Linked DNA regions of Homo sapiens. The protein of the gene in region 3 interacts with the protein of the main gene of each other region in a pairwise test. Each region holds a gene or a part of one and is shown on either strand. Other genes may lie near its edges. The genes, in order: PDE6D, CAMK2B and RAP2B.

Evidence for each region.
Region 1: the proteins of RAP2B (region 3) and PDE6D interact in a two-hybrid assay, tested with the Homo sapiens proteins (one study listed by BioGRID).
Region 2: the proteins of RAP2B (region 3) and CAMK2B interact in binary tests that used the Homo sapiens proteins (3 or more experiments, as listed by UniProt).

What each region holds. Positions count from the first base shown.
Region 1 is NC_000002.12:231,731,914-231,736,431, forward strand, and holds the end of PDE6D (retinal rod rhodopsin-sensitive cGMP 3',5'-cyclic phosphodiesterase subunit delta), read right to left. Parts: intron 1,121-4,518; coding exon 1,039-1,120; 3' UTR 520-1,038; downstream 1-519. UniProt on the Homo sapiens protein: Promotes the release of prenylated target proteins from cellular membranes. Modulates the activity of prenylated or palmitoylated Ras family members by regulating their subcellular location.
Region 2 is NC_000007.14:44,224,498-44,231,665, forward strand, and holds part of CAMK2B (calcium/calmodulin-dependent protein kinase type II subunit beta), read right to left. Parts: intron 6,558-7,168; coding exon 6,509-6,557; intron 5,005-6,508; coding exon 4,891-5,004; intron 4,428-4,890; coding exon 4,299-4,427; intron 2,148-4,298; coding exon 2,019-2,147; intron 1,395-2,018; coding exon of another isoform or gene 1,266-1,394; intron 817-1,265; coding exon of another isoform or gene 719-816; exon of another isoform or gene 688-718; intron 1-687. UniProt on the Homo sapiens protein: Calcium/calmodulin-dependent protein kinase that functions autonomously after Ca(2+)/calmodulin-binding and autophosphorylation, and is involved in dendritic spine and synapse formation, neuronal plasticity and regulation of sarcoplasmic reticulum Ca(2+) transport in skeletal muscle.
Region 3 is NC_000003.12:153,157,251-153,165,225, reverse strand, and holds the start of RAP2B (ras-related protein Rap-2b), read right to left. Parts: upstream 3,001-7,975; 5' UTR 2,533-3,000; coding exon 1,981-2,532; 3' UTR 1-1,980. UniProt on the Homo sapiens protein: Small GTP-binding protein which cycles between a GDP-bound inactive and a GTP-bound active form. Involved in EGFR and CHRM3 signaling pathways through stimulation of PLCE1.

The DNA.
Region 1 (4,518 bases), on a different chromosome or scaffold from region 3:
CGGACCTGAAAGCACTGCCAGTTGTAATCCCTTCTCTCCCACGCTGGCTTCCAATGACGACAGTCTTAAAGGCCTCCCAGCCTCCTCCCAGCCCAGACGCCTTCCCATCATTCTCCAGTTAGGTTCATGCAGATCTTTTCATTTTGTAGCTTCTAGTCTCATTTAGGAATATGAGAGTCCCTACTCTACTAACTTAGAATTGCCCTTTCTTGAAACTTCTTGAACAAATGAATACTGTAAACAAATAGAAAAAATTAACAATAATAAACAAACAAAGGGTGCATGTATGTTGTGGAAAAGAACCATTAAAGATTGTGTCTAAAAGACAAATGTTAAGGTCATGGGTTTGGTTCAAGTATGTTGCACAATTTTGGAAAGCAGTAACTGTGGCACTAGGGAACAAGATCTATCAGTTCCATTCCTGGAGTGAAATACAGTTGTGATCTTATATTTGGTTTCTTTCCATTATGCAGCCAGGTTCACTTTCCAGAAAAAGGAGAGATAAAAGCAGTGCCATGCTAAAGACTGTAGGAATATTTTAATTCATATTTTTAATTACATTATGTAATAATATCACAGTCTATTTTACAAGTTAAATGTATGAGAATGTATGAAATAGAAATGGTAGGAAAAAACTAAACATGGGTCAGGAACACGGAATTTTTCCAAAACCAGGGGCCAAAGGTAGATGTGTAGCCTGTAGGGCCCAAGGAGGAGACAAGGAGGGTGACAGGTACAGTTACCGGTTTGTGGTATGTGTTTGTTCCCTGTGTGTATGCTGGGAAGGACTTGAGACCTGTCCCCTGCCCTGGTCTGGGGTTGGGAGTTTAGTCTGGTCAGCTGGAAGATGGTGGCTTGGGAAAAAGAGCCATCTGGTTACCTACACAGAGCTGGTCCCCTGGTGGCTGCAGGTAGGTTCTGCTGTTGAGGGAATTAGGGGTGTATGTGTCAAAAATCAAACGTGTGGAGGAAAAAAGTAAACAGTTTCCTCCTCCCTCCAAAAAACCCAAATTCTTGAAATGTACACACATTCTTCTTTCAAACATAGAAAAGTCTCACTCTGGATGTGCTTACAAGAAGATCGTCGTCAAAAAACTTTGTTTCTATGATAACGTTCCCACTGTAAGTAAGAAGAGAAACAGAGGGCAAAAGAGAGTGAGCATGTTAGGCACAAGATTTCATTTCCACAAAGTGGTTTCCATCTGGATTCCTGGGCCAATGGACATGCACCCACCCAGAGTCTTAGCTTGGGGACATTAAAATCCTTGTCTATATGGGGCTACAAGTCTAACATGACATTTAACTTATGTGGTTACATTCATCCCTGTCAAGCTCACAAATCAGAAGTGAGAGCATGTCTCCACTCCTTGGTACACTCTAAAGCCCTTAGTAGAGTGCTCTGCACACAGGGTGCTTATAGATCCGACTGACTTTCTGATACTGCATTCATGGACACCTCTGGCTGGCTTACATATAGAAGCCTGCAGACCTCAGGGGCAGTATCCTTCCCTACAGTACTCACAATAGTCGAAAGGTGGGCTTTGGCCTGGCCCACATCTATTTTCCTGCCTTTGGGTAACAGCACCTTGCTCTTCATTTGGGAACCACCCTTCCTCCAGTCCATGTGCCAAGTGAGTGGCCCCTCACTCACCTGGCAAAAGGGTGAACAGAGGATGTAACTTAGGCCAATCAGACTCTTTCTCTTGAGCAAGATCCTTCCTGTAGCTTCTCCTTGAGGAAGCCATCCAGGGATTCCTGCCCATCTGCATCTTCCAAGCCGCCCAGCTCTCCCCCTTAGTCTTTCAGCTCTTGTATTAGCCAGAGCCTGTTTCTATGACTTACAACTACAGAACACTAAATGATGCACCTGTATTGTGAGGTGTGAGGGAAGAATTTCATTTTTCTTGGTGGGTATCTCGGTGCTCCCATTTGTAAAATGGGAGAGACCATGGCCTTACCAAATCACACTTGAGCTGAGTTTAGGGCAACTGTTTTTGGGGGTTCTAAAAAGTTAAGTAGCCGGGCACGGTGGCTCATGCCTGTAATCCCAGCACTTTGGGAGTCCGAGGTGGGCGGATCACAAGGTCAGGAGATTGAGACCATCCTGGCTAAACAGGGTGAAACCCTGTCTCTACTAAAAATACAAAAAAATTAGCCAGGCGTGGTGGCGGGCGCCTATAGTCCCAGCTACTCGGGAGGCTGAGGCAGGAGAATGGTGGGAACCCGGGAGGCGGAGCTTGCAGTGAGCCGAGATCACGCCACTGCACTCCAGCCTCCGCGACAGAGCGAGACTCTGTCTCAAAAAAAATAAAAAAAAATAAAAAATAAAAAGTTAAGTATAGTTGGTTCCCTACTTATAATGAATCAACTTATGATCTTTCAACTTTATAGTGGATTTATGGGGATATTAAATGCATTTTTGACTTATGATATTTTCATCTTATGATAGGTTTGAGACAGAGCGAGACCGTCTCAAAAAAAAACAGCAACAAAAAATCACGCCTCGTGAAGAAGAAGTCAAATGAAGTTTAATAAAATCTAAAAAAAAAAAACCCCTGCTTTCCTAAACTACTCTGTACTTTCCCAGGGTAATTAATAACCAGCAGATACATTTCTGCTGGTAATTAATTATAAAACAGGTAAATAGGCCGGGCATGGTGGCTCATGCCTGTAATCCCAGCACTTTGGGAGGCTGAGGCGGGCAGATCATGAGGTCAGGAGATCGAGACCATCCTGGCTAACATGGTGAAACCCCGTCTGTACTAAAAATATAAAAAAAAAAAAATAGCCGGGCGTGGTGGCGGGTGCCTGTAGTCTCAGCTACTCAGGAGGCTGAGGCAGGAGAATGGCGTGAACCTGGGAGGCGGAGGTTGCAGTGAGCTGGGATCATGCTACTGCACTCCAGCCTGGGCGACAGAGCGAGACTCCGTCTCAAAAAAAAAAACAAAAAAAAAAACCCCAAAAAACAGGTAAATAAGGTACTCAGAATCTGACTGGCTGATAAGATATAAAAATAGCTACTACTGTAATTAAAAAATCTACTTTTAGGCCAGGCACGGTGGCTCACGTCTGTAATCCCAGCACTTTGGGAGGCCGAGGCGGGCGGATCACGAGGTCAGGAGATCGAGACCATCCTGGCTAACATGGTGAAACCCCGTCTCTACTAAAAATACGAAAAATTAGCTGGGCGTGGTGGCGGGTGCCTGTAGTCCCAGCTACTCGGAAGGCTGAGGCAGGAGAAAGATGGGAACCTGGGAGGTGGAGCTTGCAGTGAGCCGAGATCTTGCCACTGCACTCCAGCCTGGGCAACAGAGCGAGACTCCATATCAAAAAAAAAAAAAAAAAATCTACTTTTAAAACTATTAAAACTTTAAAAAATTCTATTACAATTTTTTTTTTTTTTTGAGGTGGAGTCTCGCCCTGTCACCCAGGGTGGAGTGCAGAGGCGTGATCTCGGCTCACTGCAACCTCCGGCACCCAGATTCAAGTGATCTCCTGCCTCAGCCTCCCGAGTAGCTGGGACTACAAGCGTGTGCCGCCATGCCCAGCTGATTTTTTGTATTTTTAGTAGAGATGGGGTTTCACTGTGTTAGCCAAGATGGTCTCGATTTCCTGACCTCGTGATCCACCCGACTTGGCTTCCCAAAGTGCTGGGATTACAGGTGTGAGCCACTGCGCCCAGCCTCTTACAAAATCTATGTTGCCCAAGCTAGTCTCAAACTCTTGGACTCAAGCAATCCTCCCGCCTCAGCTTCCCAAGTAGCTAGGATTATAGGAAAGTGTCACCACACCTGGCTGTTAAAAAAACTATTAAAAACTTTAAAAAGGGGCTGGGCACGGTGGCTCATGCCTGTAATCCCAGCACTTTGGGAGGTTGAGGCGGGTGGATCACCCGAGGTTAGGAGTTCGAGACCAGCTTGACCAATATGGTGAAACCCTGTCTCTACTAAAAATACAAAAAAAAAATTAACCGGTGTGGTGGTGTATGCCTGTAATCCCAGCTACTTGGGAGGCTGAGACAGGAGAGTTGCTTGAACCTGGGAGGCGGAGCTGGCAGTGAGCTGAGATCACGCCACTGCACTCCAGCCTGGGTGACAGGGCGAGACTCTGTCTCAAAAAAAAAAAAAAAAACTTAAAAAGTAGAGACAGGCATGGTGGCACATGCCTGTAGTCTCACCTACTTAGGAGGCTGAGCTAGGAAGATCACTTGAGCCCAGGAGTTGGAGTCCAGCCTGGGCAACATGGCAAGACCCTGTTTTTTAAAAAAATAAAATAAACAAAACCCAAAACAAAAACAAAAAACCTTAAAGTCAATAACCTCAATTTTTAACAAATTCAATATGGCTTTCATAAAGGAACTGTTGAAAGAGATGATCCAATATTACACAATTATCTGTGGGACTAACTCTTTTTTTTTTGAAATAGAGTCTTGGTCTGCTACCCAGGCTGGAATGCAGTGACATGATCTTGGCTCATTGTAACCTCCACCTCCTGGGTTCAAGCAATTCTCCTATCTCA
Region 2 (7,168 bases), on a different chromosome or scaffold from region 3:
GCCTCTGCAAGTCAGGCCTTCCAGGTGCCCTGACATGAACAGGAGCCTTTGCATTGCCTGTGGCTCTCTTGGGGTGAGGCAACAGGTCCAGGCAGGCCTAATGCGTCCAGGTGGGGTCAGAGCAGGTTCTCATCCTGGCCTGGACTCCTGGGACCCCAGGCTGGCCCCAAGCCCATCTCTCAGAGCCAGAGGTGGCTGCGGGAGGGAGGGCAGCTGCCCAGGGATCAGGCTGGATTGTGTATAATCCGCGATTAGAGAGCGTGGGTGGGGAGGAGACGGGGCCTGAGGCGGGCCGTGGGCACCTGCCCTATTTACACAGCTGGTGGGTGCCTTCTGGAGAAAGGAGGTGGAAAGGAGGCAGAAAGCTGGCCACCTGCCACCTGGGCCCAGGTGCCCCCAGGGCAGTACCCAGACTCTTCCTTTCCCTGAGTTCCGGAACATCTCACCCACCCCTTTCCCAGCCCTGCCCAGCCCCTCCCAGGAGGGCCACACGAATCTCCATCCTGCCCTGCTCACAGCTCCTTCCTGCAGCCCCCTCCTCCCCAGCCAAGCTCAGGGAAGACTCTGGAAGGGCAGGTCTGTGCTGTGGCCCCTGAAGGTGAGCCTGGACACCGAGCCCCGAGCTGGCCACTCCACACCCACCCTGGGCCCTGTCCTCAGAGGACTCACCCCAGATACTGCACAGACCTTGAGGGCAGGCTGCAGTCCTGGGCTGGGGTCATGCCAACCTGATGGGGTGACCTTCCAGGCAGGCTCCTTTGGGCACACCCCTCCACTTCTGCAAGGGCAGCAAGCCCCTTAAAATCAGATGAGCTGCTGTAGAAGTGGCAGGTGTCGGGGGTTCTGACCACTCCCAGAGGCTCTGCGGTGCACCCACCCCAGCTGCACGGCGGCCCCTCCCCATGCCTCCCTCCTTGAGTTCTGGTCGCCCAGGCACCCCGACCCTATCAGCATCAAGAACCTGGCCTCTCCCCTCAGCTGCTTGCCTCTGATCCCCTCAGTCAACCCCTGCTGGGGGTCCTCAGCCGACCACAGAAGCTCTGGGGGTGAGTACCCCTCCAGGGGCTGCCCCCTGCTCTCTCGGGCACCCAGGGTGGATCCAGTGCCCCTTTGAGCCTGCAGCCTGCATCCCCCTCCTCGAGCCGCTGCTCCTGTGGGTTCACTCTCCCCACACCCTTCTGCCCTGGCCGCCTGCAGCAGCCCCCAGGCCCAGCCTGCAGAGGGGACGGTGGCAAGCAGACCCCACCTGTCCCTCAAGTACTTACCTAGCCACTGCCCTGCCATGCCGAGCCCGTGGCCCAGCAGCCTCTTCTCTAAGAGTATCTCCACACCACCCCCAGTCTGGTGTCTCCCCACAGGTGGGGGTGGCAGCAGCCCTGGGATGTCATCCATCCCTGTAAGTGATACTGCGGGTAGTCGGCAGACAGACCGGGAGGTGGCCCAGCCTGGCTCCTCCCTGGCCGGGGAGGCTGCCCAGCCTGTGCTTCCTGTCCCGCCCGCTCTGTTTCAGCCTGGCCCCAGCTGCCCCCCAGATCCGCGCCTCCCGATCCCCACCTGCTCCCTGCTGTCTGGACTTGGACAGCTCTAATGCTAGAGCGTCTCAGGCCGGGACTGACACTTTTCTGTCCCGGCCCAGCAGGTCCACCTTGACCCAAGCCAGCAGCTCCTGGCGTGCTAGCCCTTGCCACACGCGCAGACCCTTTGCCACCCATTCCCCTCCCATCAGGAGAAAGCTGTGGACCTCAGGGTTGCGAATGCTGGGGTCGGCAACAAACCTGCTCTTTCGGACGCTCTTCCTATACACATATGTCATACACACTTCATAACCATAACCTCCATTTTCTGAGACCCAGTGGCACCTTCATGTGCTTCAAAGCAATTCCCTGGGACCCAGCAGAGGGATCCTGTGCCCCGCCCTCCTCCGCAAGAATGGCCCTTCCCAGAGCACCACTGCCAGGCTCGCACGCCCCGAGCCCCTCCGGGCAGCCGCTGCCACGGCCACTCAAGGTGCTACTTACATGGGGTGGGCAGGGGGCCAGGGATAGTCGGAGATGGGCAGGGCGGGGGCCCCACTGGCGAGGGGCCCTCGGCTTCTGGGGTCCCTGAGCCCCTCCTCACAGAGTTCAGGATGTCAGAGATCCTGGGGGCTGGGGCGGAACAGACGAGACGTGAACACAAGGCAGGCACGGGGGGCACGCAGGAGAGAAACCATGGGCAGACAGCCAAGCCAGAGATTGAGGGGCACAGAGGCAGATGTGGGGGATGGGGCACAAGGGGACAGAGGGGAGGAAGGGAGAATGGGGGGGTGTGGGGGGAAGATGGTGGACCTGGGCCGACAGAGGGGATATAGGGGAAAGAAGGGGATGTGGGGGATGGAGGGGAGCTTGGGGGACAGAGAGGGAAACGGGAAATGGAGGAGACGTGGGAGACAGAAGGGAACGTGGGGGACAGAGGGGCATGTGGGGGGACAAAGTGGGGGTGTAGGGGATGGGGGGCATGAGGGGACCAAGGTGGGTGTGGGGGACAGAGGGGGGTGTGGAAGACAGAGGGGGTGTGGGGGACAGAAGGGGTCATGGGGGATGGGGGTGCGTGAGGGGACCAAGGTGGATGTGGGGGACAGAGGGAGTGTGGAGGACAGAGGGGGATGTGGGGGACAGAGAGAGGTGCAGGGGACAGAGGAGGGTGCAGGGGACAGAGGAGGGTGCAGGGGACAGAGGGGGATGTGGGGGACAGAGGGGAAGTGGAAGACAGAGGGGGTGTGGGGGACAGAAGGCGGTGTGGGGAACAGAGGGGGAGGTGGGGGACAGAGGAGAGTATGGGGGACAGAGGGGGTGTGGGGGACAGAAGGGGGTGTGGAAGACAGGAGGTGTGGGGGACAGACGGAGTGTGGGGGACAGAGGGAGAGTCTGGGGGACAGAGGGGGTGTGGGGGACAGGAGGGGGTGTGGAAGACAGAGGAAGTGTGGGGGACAGAAGGGGGTATGGGGGGCAGGGGGTGGAGGACAGAGGAGGGTGTGGGGGACAGAGGGGGATATGGGGGACAGAGGGAGTGTAGGGGACAGAGGAGGGTCTGGGGGGCAGAGGGAGAGTGTGGGGGACAGGGGGTGTGGGGGACAGAGGGAGTGTGGGGGACAGAGGAGGGTCTGGAGGACAGAGGGAGAGTGTAGGGAACAGAGGGGGTGTGGGGGACAGAAAAGGGCGTGAAGGGACCAAGGTGGGTGTGGGGGACAGAGGGGTATATGGGGGACAGAGGAGGGTGTGGGGGACAGAGGGAGAGTCTGGGGGACAGAGGAGGGTGTGGGGGACAGAGGGAGAATGTGAGGGGCAGAGCAGAGTTTGGGGAGGAAAATGGAAATGAGGGAAAGAGGGGAATTTGGGGGACAGAGGGGGATGTAGGGATAGAGCGTGGACTTAGGGGGACGTGGAGAGGTTGTAGGCTGACCGAGGGGGATATGGGGGGACGGAGGGAGACAGGGGGACAGAGGGTGCTGCTGCGGACAGCGTGGTGCGTGGAGAGGAGGCTGCAGGAGTGAAGGGCAGATGCTCTGGCTGTCGGGTGGCGTGGGCTGAAGCTGCTGGGGGCAGAGGGCACCCTCCAGGGAGAGGCTGCTGGCCAGCAAGAAGCTGTCAGGTAAGTGGCCCTTGAGGAACGCTGGACGGGGTTACAGGGAGAGGAGGGAGTCACGGGCGTTACAGAGGAGGCCTGGCCTGGCCCCATGAGGACAGCCCAGGTCAGCAGAGGCCAGGCTTATGATTCTCCGTACTATCCCCTTGTTGGTGAGCTCCAGAGACCCTGGTCGGGGTTCCAGTTTTGGCACCTTCCTCAGCCTCCTAGACTGAGGGAGGGTGCTCAGGGGTTGGGGCCACATCAGGAACCAGGGTGGCCCTGAGTGCAGCTCCTGGGCACCATGGGCAGGGCCCCTGGGTGGGTGTGAAGTCTGTGGGGCTGGGACAGTGATCAGCAGAGAGGGCCTAGGGGCATGGGGGGCCTCGGAGGGGCCAGGGCTGCCCAGGGCTGGGACAGACATTTTGGAGAGGGGCCTGGGGCTGGACAGCGAGCGGGGAGTGGCAGTGGGAGCAGGAGCCGTGGAGGGGTCTGGGCCCCTTAGGGAGAAGCCAGGAGCTGCCCTGCTGGTTAGCATGGGAGCCCACAGGAAGCCCCGCCAGGGCAGGACTCCAGGCTGCGGCGCCGGGGCAGGGTAGCTGGGCCGTGCATGCAGGTGGGAAGCTGCTGAGCGCCGGCCATTCGCAGGGAGCTGTCCGGCAGCAGAGGCGGCAGGCCTGGGGGCCACTACTTACACGGGGAGGACAGGGGGCCTAGGAGAGCCGGAGACAGGCAGGGCGGGGGCCCCGCTGAGAGGGGGCCCTCGGCTTCTGGGGTTCCTGAACCCCTTCTCACAGAGTTCAGGATGTCAGAGATCCTGGGGGCTGGGGTGGAACAGATGAGACGTGAACATGAGGCAGACAGACACACGAGGCGGCGGCAAGGCGGAGGAGGCCAGTGGGAGGGGTCCCGTGTTCTAGACCCCTTGGGCCCTGGGATCAGGCCCTGAATCAGAGCCTGCCTCAATAGCAGGGAGCCCCCCCGCCCGCAAGCTGAGGTGGAGTGAGGCCTGCACCGACCCTGAAGACTGGAATTGAGGCCCGAGCCTCCAGGGCCTCCCATCCTGCCCAGTGGCCTTGAGCAGGAAAGTGGTCCAGGGCCCTCCTCACAAAGAGGTGGGGCTCGATGGGCTGGGGCCACCCTGGAAAGCCCCAGTGAGGGATTGTGGGGTGATGAGGCTGGAGCCAGGGTCCACGCTCAGCCTGCCCTCGGCTCTGGAGTGGCCCCTCTAGGGGGTTGCCAGCCCTCCAACATGACCCCCACAGCAGCAGGACCCAGGCTACTTACATGGGGCTGGCAGGGGGCTAAAGGGAGCCGGAGATGGGCAGGGCAGGGGCCCCTCGGCTTCTGGGGCTCCCGAGCCCCTCCTCACTGAGCTCAGGATGTCGGGGACCCTGGGGGCTGAGGCGGAACAGGTGAGGCAGGCAGGTGGGTGGTGCGCCCGCAGGAAAAGAAGGCAACTGGAGAAGGACAGGGGGAGGCCAGGAGGGAGGGAGGGGGTGACAGCTGGATACCTGGGGCTCCTGGGGTGGAGGTGGGGTGGCCACCTGTGGGGGTCCTGGGCCTGTGGTGGCCGCAGCAGGTATGTGAAGGCTGAAGGAGCCAACACGGGACCGGTGCCAGAGCCAGAGCCAGCAGAGGCCAGGGCAGCACAGGCCAGTGCAGGCTGGCGCAGAGTCAGAGGCCACCCTGCCACCCTAGTGCTGTGACCACCCCTGGCCAGAGCCAGCAGAGGCCAGGCGCACGGAGAGGGAGTGACAGTCATCGTAGGGGCATGATGGCCACTGAGCCTGCCTGGACTCTGTACCAGCCTCAGGGCAGGCTGGCAAGGCTTCTTTCTGCACGGGGTGGGGTGGGGGGTGTCTGCCTCCACCTCGAGAGGCTGCTCGGGCTCAGATCTGAGCCACAGCTGCTGGCTTCTGGCTGTCTTCTCTTCTCCCCTGCAGGATCCAGGCTGGGCCCCCCTCCCAGGTCCCCTCCCTCACTGCTCAGCACCCCACTCGGCTGAGGGTGATGGAGAACCTCTGGACAGCCTTCATGCTGTTGCCTTTGGGGCCTGTTCCAGACTGCAGGGGAATCACACAAACACCCACTCTCCGGCATCCAGGGCCCAAAGTCCTGTGCTCATCTCTGCTCAGGGACAGTGTCATAGCTGGGTAGGCCGGGCAGGAGCAAGGCTATGCTTTGGACAGGTGAGAAGTTTTCTCCCCTAAACTGGCAGAGTGGCTGACCCTTTTTGGGCACCAGGGTAGCCCTGAGAACAGCATAAGGCTTATTAGGTGACCGTGTGAGCGATGAGGGTCAGGAGGCCCCATGTGGGTGGTCTGGAGGCGGCAGAATCCATGGAGCATGCCCCAGTGCCTGGTGCCCTGGGGGCCTCTTGGGGAACACACAAGACATTGGCCTGGGTGAGCAAGGGAGGGGGCCCTGGAATCTGTGGTGCAGAAACCCACCGCAGCAGGACACTCCTGGCTAAGCAAAGGCAAACACGGAAACACTCACCCAGCTGCCCGGCCACTTGGCAAGTGCATGCTGGACAGAAACGCAAGCTTAAGGAGCTTTAAGACAAGGACAGCATCTTGGAACAAATTCTACCCATGGGCCTGTTTCCCCGTGAGGGTCCTGGTGTGGAGAACCTGCCTCCATGCAAAGCCGTGGCTTCCTCACTTGGATGCGGTGACCGAGACTGCCCAGCTGTCGGTCATCTCTGCCATGCTTCTCCGCTCTGGGCAGGCCTGACACCCAGGCTTGGAGCAGGATTACAGCTACAGGGTCCCTGAGCCCCTCAACACATGCATAAACTAGGCGTCGCAGGAGAGTTGACCCTGCCCAAGTCCCACCCACCTCAAAGAGCAACCCAGCAATGCCAAGGCCGCTGGGGGGGCAAGGACTCAAGTGCAGGTACCTTTAGCGTCTTCATCCTCTATGGTGGTATTGGCACTGTCAGAAGACTCCTGAGGAAACACGGGAGGCAGCGGGTCAGGATGCGGCCAAGGATAGGTGGGACGTGGCTGAGGGCAGGTGGACAGGGCTGGGCCTGTGTCAGGACCAGCCCAGGCTCTGAAGCTGATCTCTGCCTCGGCTGCTTCCACGGGGCTTAAAGGCCAGGGGCTCAGGGGACATGCCCTCTGGCGGCTGCAGGGCCCCAGCTCTGTGGACCTCATGCGGCAGTGACCGGAGAAGACACCCAGTTCTGTGCTGGTCCCTGGGAGGGCGCCCCTCACCAGGGTGCATTCTCACGGCAGCCAGCACAGGCTGGCACGGAGTCCGAGGCCGGCCCTGCCACCCTAGTGCTGTGGCCACCCTGCATCCCCAACACATGAGGGCTCCACTTCTCCCAGCAAGATGAGCCTGGCAGAGAGACTGGTATGCTCAGCTGACTCTTTAACAAGAGAGGAAAATGGGCTTTTTGAAATTCCAAGACGTAAAACACAATGGGACTGGCTGGTTCCAATGAAGCAGCAGCCGGTGTCATCCAAAATACAGGGTGAGGCGTTCCCAGGAGCTCTGCAGATCCGCACAGGGCTCCAGGAACCTTGGCCTGGCCCCAGGCAGAGCATTCCTG
Region 3 (7,975 bases):
TCTACAATCCATTCAAATGTACTGCAAAAAACATCACTAGGTATAACTTCAGAATTGAAAACCATCTTTCCCAAACATGTTTTTGACTTGATGTGCAATATAAACAGAGGGAAAAAAGGAAGAAAAACTTAAAAGTGCCATCCTACTTTGCCAGAAGGATGGTTACTTTCCCAGATCTAAGGCAATTTTAATAGATGGGTTCTCTTGTTCCCTACCTACAATGAGGTAAACTGTTCCATGTCAGATCAGATTCAAAATACCTGTTCATCTTCTAATCAGATGGTAATGGCCATACCCAGGGCTTCCTCGACCTTGATGGTTTTCTCCAAATTTAAAAAGTTGGGAGTAGTGTCATCCAACTTGTCACTGAGACACTTCTGTCTTTAAAATTTCACAAATAGCTCTGAAGAGTATCATGCACCTGCCCCATCCACCTCAGCCATGATACTGTATTAAATCACTGAATATGAAACACAGAAACACAAACAATAGTTTTGGGTTTGTTTCTTTAAAAATGACATTTGTATTAAAAGTCTTAAAATGAAGAGACAATGATTAAACGCATGAAATTAAAAATTACAATTAGTTAGAATTGGTACATCACAACAGTAAAATTTTGCTCTTTGCTTCTGGAGGAACACCCTACAACAGGTAATTAAAAAATTTAAAAATAATATGAAAGGGGAGCTAAATACCTGAAAATTTAAACAAAATGAAGCAAAAAAAAGGGAAACAAATTCATTGCAAGAGATGGAAATTACATTTTAAAGGCTGAAAATAATAAAGAAATTCACTAAACAACAGGCCCTATTGTCCTGGCTCCTTCAGAAAGATTACTGAAAGGAAACTGGGAAGTGGTTTGGGGAATAGCAGATTCTGGGATATGGTGGGAAGTTCACAGGTTGGCACCGGCTGGAACAGCTGAGTTTTGAAGGCACTCTGCAGACACAGGGGTGCTGGGGGCCCTGAATCACATTTACAAAGTCTTTGTACTGTATTTTTAAAAGCTAGTCATTAAAATCGGTTACTGCCAACCAAAAAACAAAAACAAAAGGCTAAACTTAAAACACACACACACCACACACATACACACACACACCATAGTACACACGAAAATGTGCAGATCTGTAACATTTTTTTCACAGCTGATAAAAAAAAAAAATACTACCATTCTCCCCCAGACTCCCCTTTGATACAGTAGGTAAACAAAATAGATTTTTTTTCCACAAATATCAGCAGACACTTTCTGGCACCCCACACTGTATTGGCATCAGTGTTAACAGTCCCAGTTCAGATGTGCAATACTTCAGATTGGATACACTGTAACAAGAATCCAACTTTGCATAGACATCCTCAGAATCGCAATCAGTCATGGGGTTGCCCTTCCAAGCTGGCAGAAAAGGAACCCGATCTTAATTTCCAGCTACTCCTGGAAAAGAAGGAAAAAAAGTTTCTTCCTCTCCTCCTGCTCCTTCATATGGTTCTCCCGGACTTCCTTCCATGTATTTAAAACTTGGAACTAGAAAAACGGCTGTTGACCAAAAAAAAAAAAAAAAAAAAAGAAAGAAAATAGAAAAAAAAAAAAAAAAACCATTTCCACCTTCTCTCCCTCCTTTTCATCCACCCTTCCCCCCCATTTTTTTTCCAGGCTGAAACTTTTGCTTGGTGGGTGTCAAGCTGCCGATACTGCGCCCTAACGGCTACTTAAACGGGGAAATATGCATCAACCAAAATCAGGGAGAAACGTACATGCTGCAAAGAGCCACATTTCCACCAGAGTATCGGATGGGCAGGACCGGACACCCCCTCGGGCACAGGGTGGAGGCAGGGGACGCCGGCCGCGGAGGCCAGCCGGGCTCCCAAGACACCCTGGCCAATGCAAAGTGGTCTCCAATCTCAAAGCAAGAAATAAATCACATTTAGAGAGTCGGATGCGTTTGGCTTTTGTGCGCAGAGCGCGGCCGGCGCGCGGTGGCCGCCTCAGAGGATCACGCAGGCCGAGCAGCAGCCCTCATCGCCGTTGGGCTGCGCCGCGTAGTTCATCTGCCGCACGATCTCGGCAAATAGCTCGTCTACCGAGGCTTTGTTTTTGGCCGACGTCTCCATGAAGGGGCAGCTCCACTCCTCAGCCAGGGCCTTGCCCTCCCCGTACGAGACCTCGCGCTCACCCTCCAGGTCCACCTTGTTGCCCACCAGGATCATGGGCACGCGCTCGTACCGCTTCACGCGGATGATCTGGTCCCGCATGGGCTTGATGTCCTGGAAGCTCTGCTGGTTGACGAGGCTGTAGACCAGGATGAAGCCCTGGCCGTTCTTGATGTACAGGTCCCGCATGGACGCGAACTGCTCGGTGCCCGCCGTATCCAGGATCTCCAGCACCGACGGCGACGAGTCCACCTCAATCTCCTTGCGGTAAAAGTCTTCGATGGTCGGGTCGTACTTCTCGATGAAGGAGCCCGTCACGAACTGCACGGTGAGCGCGGACTTGCCCACGCCGCCCGAGCCCAGCACCACCACTTTGTACTCTCTCATGGCTCCGTCAGCGCTCTCGCCGCGCCTGCCGCGGCCCCGTCGGGGCTGCGCGCCGGGGAAGGCTGGGCTTGGCGGCTGGACTTCTCTTCCCCTTCCTCAGCTACGCAGGAAAAACCCAGGAGAGAGCAACCCAGAGAACGCAGGGCGGAAACCACCGAACGGAGGCCGGGCGCCGGGCCGGCCGGCGGCGGCGGCAGCGTATCCCTGGGGTGCGGGTCCGGGCCCCGCAGCAGTCCGCGGCGGCAGCAGCAGCCCGGGCGGCGAACCGAGAGGACAATGCCCGCAGCCTGCGCGAGGCGACGGCTGGAGCTCCTAGCTGCGGCAGCCCGGGAGGGCAGGGAGGCGGTGGCGGCGGGCTGCGGAGGTGGCTGCTAATTGCGCGTCGGGCCGGGACGCGCGTGGCATGAGTCCCCGCGGAACGTGCGCCCACCGCCGCGGCCCATCGCGCTCTCTCCCACAGCCTCTACTGGGCGAGGGCTTCCTACTCGCCGCGCGCAGCCCGGCCCGCCCCTCCCCGGCGAGCATGCCCAGTGCGTTCCGGCCGCGCCTTGCCCAAGCGGCCGCTCCTGGTTTTCCGCGGGGCCGGGAGGGGGCGGGGCAGTGGGCGGGGCTCCGGATTTGAGTCCGATTTGGGGAGTGGCGCGAGTTAGGAACTGGCTGGAAGATGGGGTGTGTGTGCGTATATGGGAGCGAGGAAAGCGCTGTAGGAAGCATGCAGGCCGCTTTATTTTACAGCTGTGGGAGTGGTGGACAAGGGCGGCGGCTCTGCGAGAAGCACGTGGGCGCGGCGGGCCGCCTCAGGGATGGAGTAGGCTGTGGTCTTGCCAACTCCCGTTATCAAAGGCCCAAGGACGCCATTCACTCAGCCCCGGGCGGGCGTGGGTCTGGGGGCCGGAAACCCGAAGTCCTGTGGGTGCCGTGGAATGCACGAGCAGCCGGCGGAGCAAACCTGCCCCATAGATTTTTCTAAACCGTTCGCCACAGAAACGCTACTCTGTCTTCTCTGACCGACTCTGTGCACTGCAGCCTTGCACAAAGAAAACAGGAGGTACTCCAAGTCTGAGATACTGTTCCGACTAGGAAAGGGGTAGCTTCTGGTACCTGCAGCTCTCTCGGGGCAGGGTCCCGCGGGTCGTACCCACCTCCCCGCTCGAGTGCGGTCAAAACCCGGAGACCGGATTACATCCCAATCCAGAAGTCTCAGGGCGCCCGCAGTTAGTTCAGGGCATGCTCAGTCGCAGAGCAGGTTTTTGGGCTTGGAAGTAGGAAGCTTTTGCACCACACACCCACACTCTAGCTCAAATTACCTCTCCCAGACTCTGCACTCATTGGTCTCGGGGCGCGAGTCTGACACCCCTAAGTGTTGTTCATTGGCTGCCGCCAAGGCTTTATCAGTTTGGGGCGCTTCATTGGCTAAAAAGTAGCCTCCGCTCGCGATTGGTTATTTATAGAGATTGAGCGGAGAGGCGGAGGCACAGCTGTTCTTTCTCCGTTGCTCCCCCACCCTCTGCCTCCCACTTCCCCAACCCTGGCGTTTTGAAGTAAAAGTGAAAAAATAAGAGGCATTTAGGCTGAGAGCTCAGAACTAAATATAGTTCTTTGTTGGTGTTTTCGAGAGGGTCTGACTCCTCGGTTTCCAGTCACGACTGCCCCTTAAAGGGAGCACAAAGGGCTAATTACAGGTTTTGGTCCGCAAGAAACCGCAGAGTTGCCAAGTTTTTTTGCAGGGAGTGGGAGGGGGCGAGGAGCCGAAATGGGCCACTTGGAATTCGTTTCACCCGGAGGGGTAGGGGAGTGTCCAAGCTTGCTTCAGAGGAAGCGTCTTCGCTGGCGGGCCGGGCAATCGCTAGACTTGGCTGGGCTGGCGCTCCCGGGAGGTGCAAGGGAGATGCCCCGACTTGTTCCGACTCCCTCGCTCCTCGCTGAGGAGGGATGTCAAGACCTGTCTGCAGGCTGAGCTCGGCGGCGGCGGGTGCGGGATGGGGAGGGAGGCGGTGGAGCTGCGTCAGCGCTGGCTCCCCGTCCTGATGTCACTGCTCCCTGGTTTCACCGTCCGCATCGGAGGGTAAACCTGGGCATGGCTAACACGGTTTCAGTTCCTAGTGCCGCCGTGACTCACGCTGCGTTTGCTAGTTAACCTCCAAACCCCTGGCCAAAGCAGCTTCCGTGCACGTCTGCAGCGTGAAGTCCTTGGGCACAGAACCGGGCGGGACGTGGGCTGCCCCTGATGCCTTGGGTGGGGTGGGTGGTGCCCACACCCGCGCCTCACCCCAATTTAGTAGAGAGAGGAGACTTTCACCTTGACTGTCAGAGTGCTTGGATGTTATGAAGCTTATATAATTCTCCAGAAAAACCTCTCAGAGGCAAACTCGCCTAAGCTGGAGAGAACCCTGTCAACATCCACCCAATGTGTAATGTCCACCAAGCGTTTTACATATACTGCCACTCCTCATAATAATGATTATTTACCCATTTTAAAGATGAGGAAACTGAGGCTGTGAGATGATCAATAATTTGCCTGCGATGCCACAACTAGAAAGTGGCCAACCTAAGATTCCAACCCAGGGATTTGCCTGCAGAGCCTAGTCTCATAACCACTGGACCATACTTACCCGTCACATGAATGTTCCGGTATGTTATTCTTTCTTAGGGTGATTTTAGAGGCTGTGTGATCAGACTGGCTCTTAAACCCAAGAGGGACCTCCGCCCACAGCCACCCTCTGGCTCTCCTCTGGCAGTGCCCCTCTTCCGGTCAGGCTGATGGCCCAGCTGGAGCCTGACCCTCTTCTAGACTACATACGCTCCATGTAGTCAGAACTCTGGACTGCTCTGCCCAAATGGTGCCAAGTTCACTTTCAGGATCTGGTCGGGACTCTGAACTCACTCCTGTGTCCAAGAAATAGCTCTTCTTTGGGGTGTGGACAGTACCTGGACCTGTGGGCTAAGGTGTGCACTCCCAGGTGCTTTGGGCCCCTCGTAATGCAGGAAGAGGGATCATTCGCGATCAGCTTTATCCTCCATGACACCTTCCAGCCTGGCCCTTAGAGAAGTCCAGGAATTCATAGTTCACAACTGGCCATCCAGCTCCGTGTAGGAGGTATTTGTCAAGGTGGGAGGACAGATCATATTTTGTTTAACAGTTTGTTATCTTGATTTATGACTTAAATACTTAGGTTAATGCTATGTGGGCCTCTATTGGTACTCTTAACCACAAATATTAGGTGTGGTTCTGAGTGTGATATAGAAGCAGATGCTTTGTCCTTCTGGGCCTGAAGTCTAATCTCAAGTATTGGATATCAGTTATTATCAGAGGCCTTAGGCGAGTCACTTAAGCTCTCCTAACCTTAGTTTCCCTTTCTATAAAATGGTGATAATATAATTTGCCCTACGCACCTACCTACACAAGGAAACTTGGAGAAAATCCGGTCACCAAATCAATCATTTTACAGCAGAGAGAGCTGAGCAGAATTAGGACCCTGCTGTCTTAGCTGCCCTTACCATGTGCCAGGCTGTCCAGAGGGATAATAATTAACAGATAATAGACGGAAACATGTTTCTAAAGCTGCAGCACCCCATACGTGCATCAAATTACTGCTCAGACCCAGACAGCCTGACAGTCCCTTGAGAAATGACCATTCCTAAGACTCTAGGTAGCCATGTGGATGGGTATTACTGAACCTTTATGGCCTCCTCAGTACCAGAAAGATGCCACAATTTGAATACTTTTTATTAGGGATTCTTCAATAGCAATTTTTATTACATTCAGATGGTCTTCCACAGAAAGATTTATATTGGACCTTTGGGATTTCAAATGAAGCAATGAAAAATGTACAATTTTTTTTTTTTTTTGAGACAGTGTCTTGCTCTGTCGCCCAGGCTGGAGTGCAATGGCACGATCTCAGCTCACTGCAACCTCTGCCTCCCAGGTTCAAGTGATTCTCCAGCCTCAGCCTCCTGAGTAACTGGGATTACAGGGGCGTGCCACCACGCCTAACTAATTTTTGTATTTTTAGTAGAGACAGGGTTTCATCATGTTGGCCAGGCTGGTCTCGAACTCCTGATCTCAGGTGATCTGCCCACATCAGCCTCCCAAAGTACTGGGATTAGAGGCATGAGCCACTGTGCCCGGCCCAGTGTACAAATTTTTAGGGTTGATCATTTCTTCATGTAAAATTTGTTAGGAATATTTTTACCCCCACTCACAGCGTGAAACATTATCTATCCTGTACTATAATTATTACATTTCCATAACTAAGTCTGGTCACCTTAAGCACCATGTGAAATACTCAAGGGCAAGGTCCATGTCTAGTTTATCTTTAGAGCCACCTTTGTCCTTCACAGCACTTAGTACCGTAGAAAGCCCTCAAATATTTATTAATGAATGTGTGAATGGTATTTTATCCTTTTCCAAACTCTATTTGTGTTAGAAGATCATATCAATCCTTGATAAGACATAACATGTTTTCGATCCACAGAAAAATGTATACTAATGTGTCAGTCTGTCTCCCTGAGTCACAAAGATGCTGGAGTGATCAAAGTCTTCATTTATTGGGGTGAAAACACTAAATCAGTGCTATCTTGAGGAAAGATACCAAAGCATCCAATGGATAAAGCTTTTGTCTGAAGAAGACATTTTCAGATTATGTGGAAAGGCATTTTTGAAAAACAATCTAACATAAAAGCTATCAGGAAGAGACAGCTTAACTTTGATACTTTGCATAAACAGGGGTCCCATTCCTAACCTTTGCTCACAGAGTGACCTCCTTCCAAGATACACAGGTTGGGTCTTGAAAGAATTAGATTTCTTAGAATGTGACTGTTTTACGTCCTCAAGAAAATAACTACCCGCTTGTTCTTTTCATTTGTACTAGGTAAGTGGAGGTTTGTTTCATAATGTTCATAGTTTTAGTTAGTGTCACCTATAGGTAAACAAAAAATTCTGAACAAATTCTAATTTTGAAAGCATCAAAGGTAAGTTGATAGTGACCATATATCATTATTTGAAAGCTGAAGTAGGCCAGGCGCAATGGCTCACACCTGTAATCCCAGCACTTTGGGAGGCCGAGGCGGGCAGATCACGAGGTCAGGAGTTTGAGTCCAGCCTGGCCAAAACGGCAAAACCCCATCTCTACTAAAAATACAAAAATTGGCTGGGTGTGGTGGCACATGCTTGTGGTCCCAGCTACTTGGGGGGGCTGAGGCAGGAGAATCACTCGAACCTGGGAGGCAGAGGTTGCAGTGAGCAGAGATTGTGCCACTGCACTCCAGCCTGGGTGACAGAGTGAGACTCCATCTCAAAAAAATAAATAAAGTGGAGGTATAAGTGTGAGAATAACTGTGCCTTACTGTGTTCTCAATATGTGTTAAGTAACTGAATATATTATAACATGACCACATATCCACTAGTAGGCTTAGGATATTTTACTTTATCAATGGTCCTTTT